Homo sapiens: one gene and its partner. The protein of the gene in region 2 interacts with the protein of the main gene of each other region in a biochemical or structural test. Each region holds a gene or a part of one and is shown on either strand. Other genes may lie near its edges.

Evidence for each region. The genes of interacting proteins can lie anywhere in the genome.
Region 1: the proteins of CIT (region 2) and PDZRN4 interact in a test that uses a peptide from one of them, tested with the Homo sapiens proteins (one large-scale study listed by IntAct).

Annotation. Positions count from the first base shown.
Region 1 is NC_000012.12:41,568,735-41,573,648, reverse strand, and holds part of PDZRN4 (PDZ domain-containing RING finger protein 4), read right to left. Parts: intron 1,286-4,914; coding exon 1-1,285.
Region 2 is NC_000012.12:119,870,147-119,875,597, forward strand, and holds part of CIT (citron Rho-interacting kinase), read right to left. Parts: intron 1-5,451. UniProt on the Homo sapiens protein: Plays a role in cytokinesis. Required for KIF14 localization to the central spindle and midbody. Putative RHO/RAC effector that binds to the GTP-bound forms of RHO and RAC1. It probably binds p21 with a tighter specificity in vivo.

The DNA.
Region 1 (4,914 bases), about 78 Mb from region 2:
GCTGCTCTTTGGCCCTAACCAGGTGCTGCTTTCTCTCCTCTTTGCTCCAGTAGCGCCCCATTTTCATCTCGCTCATGGTGTCATCGTCTGTGGTCATGCCACTCCGCTCTTCCTTGATCTTTAAGGCACGTTCCTTCAGGATTCGGTCTCGCACGGGTCTCTTTGTGATGTACCGTGTCCCGTCGCTCCTAATTTTCACCTTCCATTCCATCTTGGGCTCTGAACACTTCTGAGACTCCTTGCACATGCTCACCAAGCTGAGCTGACTCTGAGCATACTCGACTGCAGATTTCTGTTGAATTAACTGCATGTAGCTTTGATAATGCCGGGCGTGTGCTGGGATGTTTGCATATCTATATGAGGAGCTGTGGTAAGGAGAGAGGTAAGGGATGTGTTCGCTGACTGCCTTCTCTTGATCAGGAAGCTTGCTGCCTTCTAAAACCTTCTCCTTGCTTTCAGCGCTACAACCTTGCTCAGTGGTTTTGGCTTTGGTGGAGGTCGACTCTTTACTGCTCTGTCCGGAAGAGGACTGGGTGGCTGCCATTGTGCTTCTCAGGTTTTTCTTATTGGTGAGGTTGATCACCCTTGGAAGGGAACTGTCAGGGGAACGGTCTACAGTGAGCGGAGTACTTCTGCAGCTCTCAGCTGTGTTGTAAGCACTAGAACTGTCCTTGTCAGACTTTTCTGGATGCTCCATGATGTCATCTAGCTTTCCCCTTTGCATATCTATGCTGGTGTTATAATTCCGGAATCCTCCATCATGCAATGTCCAGATGTCTCCATACTGGTCTGTCACTTTCTGGAGCCTGTGAGCCTGCATGATATTCTGACACTCAAGCTCAATGTTTCTCAGTTCTTCATTAAGCAACTGTAGCTCATGCTCCACTCCCTCTTGCTCCCCTTGATTGCATTCAATTGTGCTGCTTGAGTAATACAGGTCATACTCTCCATGATTTCGAATCTTGCATTTGAGCTCCAAGAGCTGCCTGAATCTTTCACAGTCCTCATCTGGGTTGCCAATGCAGTCTGAGTCAATGTATTCACCAGATACGAGGCTCTCATTGTACTGAAGTTCAACACTTCCCAGAGTGTCTTGGCTCTGCCCCAGGTCTCTCTTGCTCTTCAAAGATGTGCTATTGGGGTCCTCGGCTGCATTCTCCTGCTCTGAGCTCTCATCATTTCGCAAGCTTTCATCTGTACGTCCTACTCCACTGTCCTTCTCATGGTTGTTGGATGAGGATGTTGCAGTGTCTGTTGTGCCTTCTTCTTCTTCTTGCTTTTTTGGCTAAGAAAATGATGTTGAAAGAACAAAGAAAATTAATGATTTTGGAAGACATTTGTTATTAAAAATCTTGTTTGAAAACCAATGTTTCCTGGCAAAGTTGCATCTCCTAGACAGTTGCTCTAATTTAGGGTCCATCACAATTTTAGAAATAAAGGAAATTAGCTCATGGCAGCTTTTTATACAATGAAATGAAGAAAACAAAACCCGCTTGAATATGGCTATGATATTCACATGGATATAAATAAGACAGAATGCATTCAAATAAGTGATTCTTTAGGTTTTCTCTTACTTGGGAAACTCGGGGTTGAAGGTGTATAAACAAAGTGACTGTATGAATTTCTGAGGTGATAATATGCAAAAGAATAAGACAGAATGTCTAAATAGTCTTCAGCAATATGGAGACCTGATGTTCAGAAGCCACAATCACCTTATGTTTTTCCCCTTAAGTACAGAGGAAACTTCACTGGCTTAGTAATATGCTGACAATGGGTAAGCCAAACATCACAGAGTTTTAGGACTAAGTTAACATTATGTACTGGAGCCTAGGACATTGCTATCTATAGGTGAGGATGCTCAATTCCAAAAGGATTCAGGTTATTAGTGGCAGATTCAGGTTATTAATGACAGATGGAGGCAAAGCTTCATCTTCCAGTGCCAGAATTTCTTATATGTCCAGGATGCCATATTCCTGAATACATGTGCTCTGACCTCAGTGCACTCTAAATCATGTTTCTCAAAAGCAACAACAATGTTTTAGGACTCATTGGGGTTGTATAAGATTTTTCTACTCTTAACCAGGGATTTTTTTTCAAAGATAAATTTTAGTCTATTGAGAATAAAAATTCAGTCCCATGAAAATTTGAACAGCACTGATTGCCAGACATGGGCATAATATCAAAAAAATTTTGACACTTATGTCACATATATGTATATAGGCATGCATGTATGTTTATGTAGTGTGTGTGTGTGTGTGTGTGTGTGTGTGTGAGAGAGAGAGAGAGAGAGAGAGAGAGAGAGAGAGAGAGAGACTCTGGTAATTTTTGGCTTTCATGTAAAACAATTAACTGTAACTGTCCTAATAAGATGCATGTGTAGTTCTTTCTCTGTGAATATGGTAAAGTTACTTTCACCTCTATCAGTCATCATATGATAATCTATAAGGCAGTTTCTAGGTTATATCTGCCTTATGCCTAAGTTTATTCACTATATATATATATAGATAGATAGATAGGTATAGATATAGCTCCATCCCTCTAGAAGATGTAATTACACAATTAAATATAATCAAGCCAACAGCTAGTGCTAAAGAAGGATAGAACGGGTGACAAAAGATATTCTAAAAGAAGTCTAAAAAGGTCTCTCTAGATAATTGTTATTTTGTTCCACAAAAGTAGTGGCAGGATAAAAAGTAACAATATCAAGAGGAGAGAACATAACCATGTATCAGCTTTTCTATGACTCTCAATCTTTCTTTCCCTGGAACATGTTCCTTCATTTGTTGAAAACATACTGAGATTTATCTTAAATGTCTTATTGATTAAAAAATTATAATAAGTAACTGTAACGAACAATGGGAAGCTTGCTGCATCCCTAGGCTGTGACTTATAAGGTGACAATAGTATTTAATATGGCAATGTCTTTATACTACACCATATAACTCTCAAAGAATGTTATTGATACTGGGCATTTGAATTTATATATCGTGTTATTTATAATTATATTTTTCTAATATCTTGTCATGAGCTGAAAAATACAAGAAGACTAGTAATTTTTTTCTTATTTTACATGCAGATGACATAATAATGACAAATTATGCTATGGGAGATGTTGCACAATGTAACGGCATTCATAAGACCAAACATACTGTGTAAAATGAAACTTTCCATAAAGTAGGTTCACATATGGGTAGGTATTTTATTTTTTCAATTGAATATCCCCTTTCCCTTGTTATTGGTCTATGAACAACTGTGAAAATAAAATAGTTTTCTATTCTCAAACCTAGAATTCCTAGTTTCTAATGCAATGCTACTCTATCATTTATCATTTCCCTATGGAATTATTATAGTGACAGGCAATGTTTCTACCTAGACATTTCTAATGTAGTATTATTGTTTATAAGGGCAAAGGACTTTTAAAGGTTTCTGTACTTCTCACCATTTTTTAGTCTCATGGTGAAGAAAAAAATTCCACACAATGAGAATCTAACCTCAGAGGCATCTAGTGTTACCTCACGAGACCTAACATTTGTATTACCTCTGATGAGTAGGCAGCGTTTGACACCGTTGTCACTTTACCTGGACAGGATTTCTCCCTGCTTTCCTTATTCCAACATCCTCCTATCAATTCAGTATCAGGTCACATTTTGTATCTAAGAAAAAAAAAGCCTGGAGCAAGGACTTTCTTGCTTGTAACCAGCAGCTGCCACCAAAAATATCTTTATTTTTGGCCAGTGTTGAAGTTATACATAAAAATTTTAATCTGCCCTACCTATATTGAAAGACAGTCACCACAGTAGCGATATTACTTGTGAGCATGAAATTCTGTTTGTGGAGTGGCCAAACTCCACATAATGAGCACATGAGTATATCACATATGACTATGTTGATGCTATAGTGTGCAATCTAATTATTTATTTAATATGTGGACATGTGCACACACATACACATTTCTGTTATGGGATGTTAGCAAGCTGAATATTTCATTATTCAACATGGTAAAGTGATAGAATGTTTGTGCTGCAAGTTTCTAAGCCTGTCAAGATTTTCAAAAAAATTATCATCTTTTAAGATGTGTTAAGAATTAATGTTGAGGCCAGGTGCAGTGGCTCATGCCTGCAATCCCAACACTTTAGGAGGCTGAGGCTGGTGGAGCACTTGAGGTCAGGAGTTCGAGGCCAGCCTGGTCAACATGGTGAAACCCCATCTCTACTAAAAATACAAAAATTAGCTGGGTGTGGTGGTGGGATCCTGTAATCCCAGCACTTTAAGAAGCTGAGGCTGGTGGACCACTTGAGGTCAGGAGTTCGAGAACAGCCTGATCAACATGGTGAAACCTCATCTGTACTAAAAATACAAAAATTAGCTGAGCATGATGGCGTGCACTTATAGTCCCAGCTACTCAGGAGGCTGAGGCAGGAGAATCGCTTGAGCCCAGGAGGCAGAGGTTGCAGTGAGCTGAGATTGTGTCACTGCACTCCAGCCTGGGCGACAGAGTGAGACTCTATCTTAAAATAATAATAATAATAATGATAATAATAAGAATAGACAGGGCACGGTGGCTCATGCCTGTAATCCCAGAACTTTGGGAGGCCGAGGCAGGTGGATCACGAGGTCAGAGTTTAAGACCAGTCTGACCAACATGGTGAAACCCTGTCTCTATTAAAAATACAAAAATTAGCTGGGCATGGTGGTGGGCATCTGTAATCCCAGCTACTCAGGAGGCTGAGGCAGGAGAATCAATTGAACCCGGGAGGCGGAGGTTCCAGTGAGCTGAGATTGTGCCACTGCACTCCAGCCTGAGCGACAGAGCAAGATTCCGTATATATATATATAATAAAATACATATAATAATGTTGAGAATAGGAAGATAATTAAACAAATCAGTAAACTGAAAACAAAATTATATCAGGC
Region 2 (5,451 bases):
CTGGAGTCTATTTCTCCTGCCTTTGAATCTGTGCCATCTCTGAGACTCTCTTCAACCAAAAGAATGTGACACAAGTGACACTGTGCCAGTTCAGGGCAGTGCCTTTAAGAAGCTTGTCAAGCGGCCAGACACGGTGGCTCACATCTGTAATCCCAGCACTTTGGGAGGCCAAGACGGGTGGATCACTTGAGGTCAGGAGTTTGAGACCAGCCTGGCCAACATGGTGAAACCCTGTCTCTACCAAAATACAAAAATTAGCCAGGCGTGGTGGTAGGCACCCGTAATCCCAGCTACCTGGGAGGTTGAGGCATGAGAATTGCCTGCACCCGGGAGATGGAGGTTGCAGTGAGCCGAGATCACACCACCGCACTCCAGCCTAGGCAACACAGTGAGACTCCCTCTCAAAAAAAAAAAAAAAAAAAAAAAAGGCAGCTTAGCAGCTTCCACTTTTGGGAAGCCAGCCACCATGCACAGATGCTTGGGCTAGACCAGGGGTGTGCAATCTGTAGCCCTTGGACCAAATCCAGCCCACGGACTTTTTATAAGTTTTACTGGAACACAGCTACACCCATCATTTACATATTGTCTTTAGCTGCTTTTGTGCTACCATGGCCAAGTTGAGTGGTTGCAACAGAGACTACAGGACCCACAAAGCCTAAAATATTTATTACTTACAAAAAAAGTTACGAGTCAGCCAGGTGCAGTGGCTCACACCTGTAATTCCAACACTTTGGGAGGCCGAGGCAGGCGGATCGCGAGGTCAGAAGTTCGAGACCAGCCTGACCAACGTGGTGAAACCCCATCTCTACTAAAAATGCAAACATTAGCCGGGCGTGGAGGCACGTGCCTGTAATCCCAGCTACTCGGGAGGCTGGGGCAGGAGAATTGCTTGAACCCAGGAGGCGGAGGTTGCAGTGAGCAGAGATCGTGCCACTGCACTCCAGCCTGGGCGACAGGGCGACAGTCTGTCTTAAAAAAAAAAAAAAAGTTACGAGTCCTGGGCTATACTACTGAAAGACCTCATGGAGAAGAGAGGCCATGTGAGAAACACTAAGGTGCCCCAGCCAGCAGTCAGCACCCACATGTTCCAGTCCCAGACATAATCCCAGCTGAATGTAGCCCCACAAGTGACCCCAGCTGACATCACAGGATGAAGCAGAACTACCTAGCTGAGTCCAGCCAACCCACAGAATCCTAAGAAAAAATAAATCATTGTTGCTTTAAACTTTGTGAGTGCTTTGTTACACAGCACTTGATAACAGAAACAGACCGGCTGCATTTGAATCACAACAGCACTGGAGAATTTAAGAAAAACAAACAAACAAACAAACACATTCTCTGGTCCTATGCCCCCCTCCCCCACAACCAAATGAATTAGAATTTTCCAGACTGTAGCCTAGAATCTGTTTTATTAACAAGTTCCCCAGCAGGGAGAGGTGGCTCACACCTGGAATACTAGCACTTTGGGAGGCCAAGGTGGGAGGATCACTTGAGCCCAGGAGTTCAAGACCAGCCAGGGCAACACAGCGAGATCCCATCTCTACAAACAAACAAAAAAAAATTAGCCAGGTGTAGTGCCATGGTCCTGTAGTCCTAGCCACTTGTGAGACTGAGGTAGAAGGATCACTTGAGCCCAAGAAGTAAAGGCTGCAGTGAGCCAAGATTGTGCTGCCACACTCCAGCCTGGGCAACAGAATGAGACCCTGGTCCCCAAGAGAGTCAGACCTCAATCAGGTTTGGGAAGCACTGCATTCAAGGCCACCATATCTGTCACTTTAGTAATAGTTGCCAGTAACTCAGAAAAATAAAATGCTTTGTTTCTTCTATTCTTCAAGAGTTTAGATCAATTAAAGCAGGGGTTCCCAAATATAGTACTGGTTCTTAACAAAGTTTTCAACAGCCTGCAGTGAAATGAGAAAAAATGAACACCACATGATATCTTTTTTATAAAACTAAATGTATTCAAATTTAAAAATGGTCCTTTATTCTGAGATGATGTTCTTCCTGTCTTGTTGTTTCTTAAAATGCCCTTTATGAAATACAAGGGCCAGAAAATAATAGGTCTTTCTTTTTATTTTTTTTTTATATATCCTTACTTGGCAAAATAAAAAGTTGGAAAACCTGTGTCTACCCAGCAATTTGGGAAATTTTGCTGGCTCAGAAAGTCTGACAATCACTGACCTCGAACATGTCAGGAAATCCTGTTGAGTAGAAGTAAAAAAGACAAAATGACACTCAGTCTAAGGTACTCACCTGAATGGAAAACAAAATTGCTACTGTATCTCAACCTCATTCAAACAGCACTATATGGGAAAAGAACAAACAGCATCCTTACCTGATAACTCAAGGCAAATGATAGGTATATACTATACTTGCAATAATAGCTTTACTGGGCAGGGGGATCTCAGCATTAAAAAGAGATGAACTGAGGGTTTACCCATAAGTCTTCCTGTTATAATGACTAAATACAAGATATACTTAATAAATTCTGACGTGCACAGGTGCTGTGGCCCAATGGCTATGTGGTCAGCCTTTGGAGTCAGACCAACCAAAGATGGAGTCTGATCTTGGCCTCATCTGCAAAACCCAACGTGTATGATCTTGGGCAAGGCCTTACCTACCTCCATATCTGTCTATATCTGTTGCCTCCTATTTATGTATTTATTTAGAAACAGGGTCTCGTTCTGTTGCCCAGGCTGGAGTGCAGTGTTGCAATCTCAACTCACTACAACCTCTGCCTCCGGGGCCCCAGAGATGCCCCCACCTCAGCCTCCTGAGTAGCTGGGACTACAGGCACACACCGCCATGCCTGACTAATTATTTATATTTTTTGTAGAGATGGGGTTTCACCATTTTGCCCAGGCTAGTCTTGAACTCTTGGACTCAAGCAATCCACCTGCCTCAGCCTCCCAAAGTACTGGGATTACAGGTGTGAGCCACCACACCTGGCCTGTTGCCTCCTATTTAAAGTTTAAATTAAAAATAGTCCTTACCTCTGTCATGAGGCTGAAGTGAGATACTCAGAAACATGCCAGTTCTATGCCAGACACATTGGAAGCCATAACTATTACATAATCAGCACACTATAAGCCCTTAATAAGTTGGAAATTTTTTTCCTTTTCTTTTTTTTTTTTTTTTTAATTTACAGGGTCTTGCTCTGTCGCCTAGGCTGAAGTGCTGAAGTGCAGTGGCACAATCTTAGCTCACTGCAACCTCTGCCTCTAGGGCTCAAGTGATCCTCCTGCCTCAGCCTCCCGAGTAGCTGGGACTACAGGCACACACCATCACAGTCAGCTATTTTTTGTGTTTTTAGTAGAAACGGAGGGGCTCACCATGTTGCCCGGGCTGCTCTCGAACTCCTGACCTCAAGCAATCCACCCACCTCAGCCTCCCAAATTGCTAGGATTACAGGCGTGAGCCACCACGCCCAGCAAGTTGGAGATATTTTAAAGTAGCATGATAAAGGGGCTGAAACGTGGCAGCACTCCAGCCATCTAAGGTTAAAGACAGACTATTCATTTGTGAAAGATATGTCAAGACTTAAAATGCTGATGGGGATGGTCCCACAGAAAAACCTAAGCTTTCAATTTGTTTCCACTCTCATCTGTTTAAACACCCAATACCAATATTTTGGAAAAAAAAAAAAGTTATCAAGAATACTTCATCATTCATCATCTTACAGGTATCCTACATAACTACCTTCCCAAATATAATTACTATTAAGGAAACAAATTTAGTATTAATATTATAACTAATACTATTCTATGCTGAGTATTAACAATAATTACCATTTTTTATAAGGAGTTTACTAAGAGCCAGGCAAGGTGCTAAGTGCTTTAAATCGAATATCTCATCTAATCCTCACAACAACCCTGTGGATTAGGTACTACAACCTCTATGTTATTTTTTTTGTTTTCTTTTGTTTTGTTTTGTTTTGAGATGGAGTCTTACCCACTCTGTCGCCCAGGCTGGAGTGCAGTGCACCATCTCGGCTCACGACAACCTCCGCCTCCCGGGTTCAAATGATTCTCCTGCTTCAGCTTTTCAAGTAGCTGGGATTACAGGTACATGCGACCACCATGCCCAGCTAATTTTCTATATTTTTAGTAGAGACAGGGTTTCACCACGTTGTCCAGGCTGGTCTCGAACCCGTGACCTCAAGTAATCCGCCCGCCTCAGCCTCCGAAAATACTGGCATTACAGGCTACAACCTATTTTAAAGAATAGCAAATGGACTCAGAAAAGGTAACTGACTCACCCAAAGTAATGCAGCTAACTAGTGCTGGGACTGGGATTCAATTCTAAATCTTCATGGTCTCTATTGTCCCCCTGACTTACGAATACATAAATCAAACAAGGATTTCTACTTCACCAGTGTTCCACATACATCAGAAACAAAAGAATTAAAAATCTATTTGGAAGTAATCTTATGATATTAAGTTTTAACGCATCTGGGGTGACAGAAATGTGTATCTTGAGAGGAATGAGGGTTAAACAGGTGTGGTATTCATCAAAACTTTTTTTAAAATCTTAAAAAATACCATCCTGACTAACACAGTGAAACCCCGTCTCTACTAAAAATACAAAAAATTAGCCGGGCGAGGTGACGGGCGCCTGTAGTCCCAGCTACGTGGGAGGCTGAGGCAGGAGAATGGCGTGAACCCCGGGGGGCAGAGCCTGCAGTGAGCCGAGATCGCGCCACTGCACTCCAGCCTGGGCGACAGCGAAGACTCTGTCTCAAAAAAAAAAAAAAAAAATCTTAAAAAATAAACATCCCTGCAATGAAAATGAATAGGATTATACCCACAGAAATTGTAGTTTTAAAAAGCATCTTTGTTCATTTATTTTTCTTTCTTCAATAAAAGGACAAACTTGCCCTGGTACAGGGGCTTATGCCTGTAAGCCCAACACTTGCAGAAGCTGTGACAAGTAGATCACTTGAGCCCAGGAATTCGAGACCTGCCTGGGCAACATGGTGAAACCTCATCTCTACAAAAAATACAAAAATTAGCCAGGTATGGTGGCACACACCTGTGGTCCCAGCTACTCAGGAAGCTGAAGTGGGAGGATCGTTTGAGCCCAGGAGGTCAAGGCTGCAGTAAGCCGTGATTGTGCCAATGCACTCCAGCCTGAGCCACAGAGCAAGACCCTGTCTTGCAAGCAACCAATCAATCAATGAATGAATAAACTTTAGTACAGAAGTGTAAAGTGTGAGAAATATGAAAAGATCTCCCTTCTAAGGCAAGTTCAGCTATCTACTTCTGCACAGTGTCTTTTTTCCAAAAGAATCAGTGCATATAAAACTCTAAATAGAGGGCCAGGTGCAGTGGCTCACACCTATAACCCCAGTGCTTTGGGAGGCCAAGGCAAGAGGCTCACTTGAAGTCAGGTGTTCTATATCAGCCTGGGCAACACAGTGAGACCCCATCCCTACAAAAAATTAAAAAATTA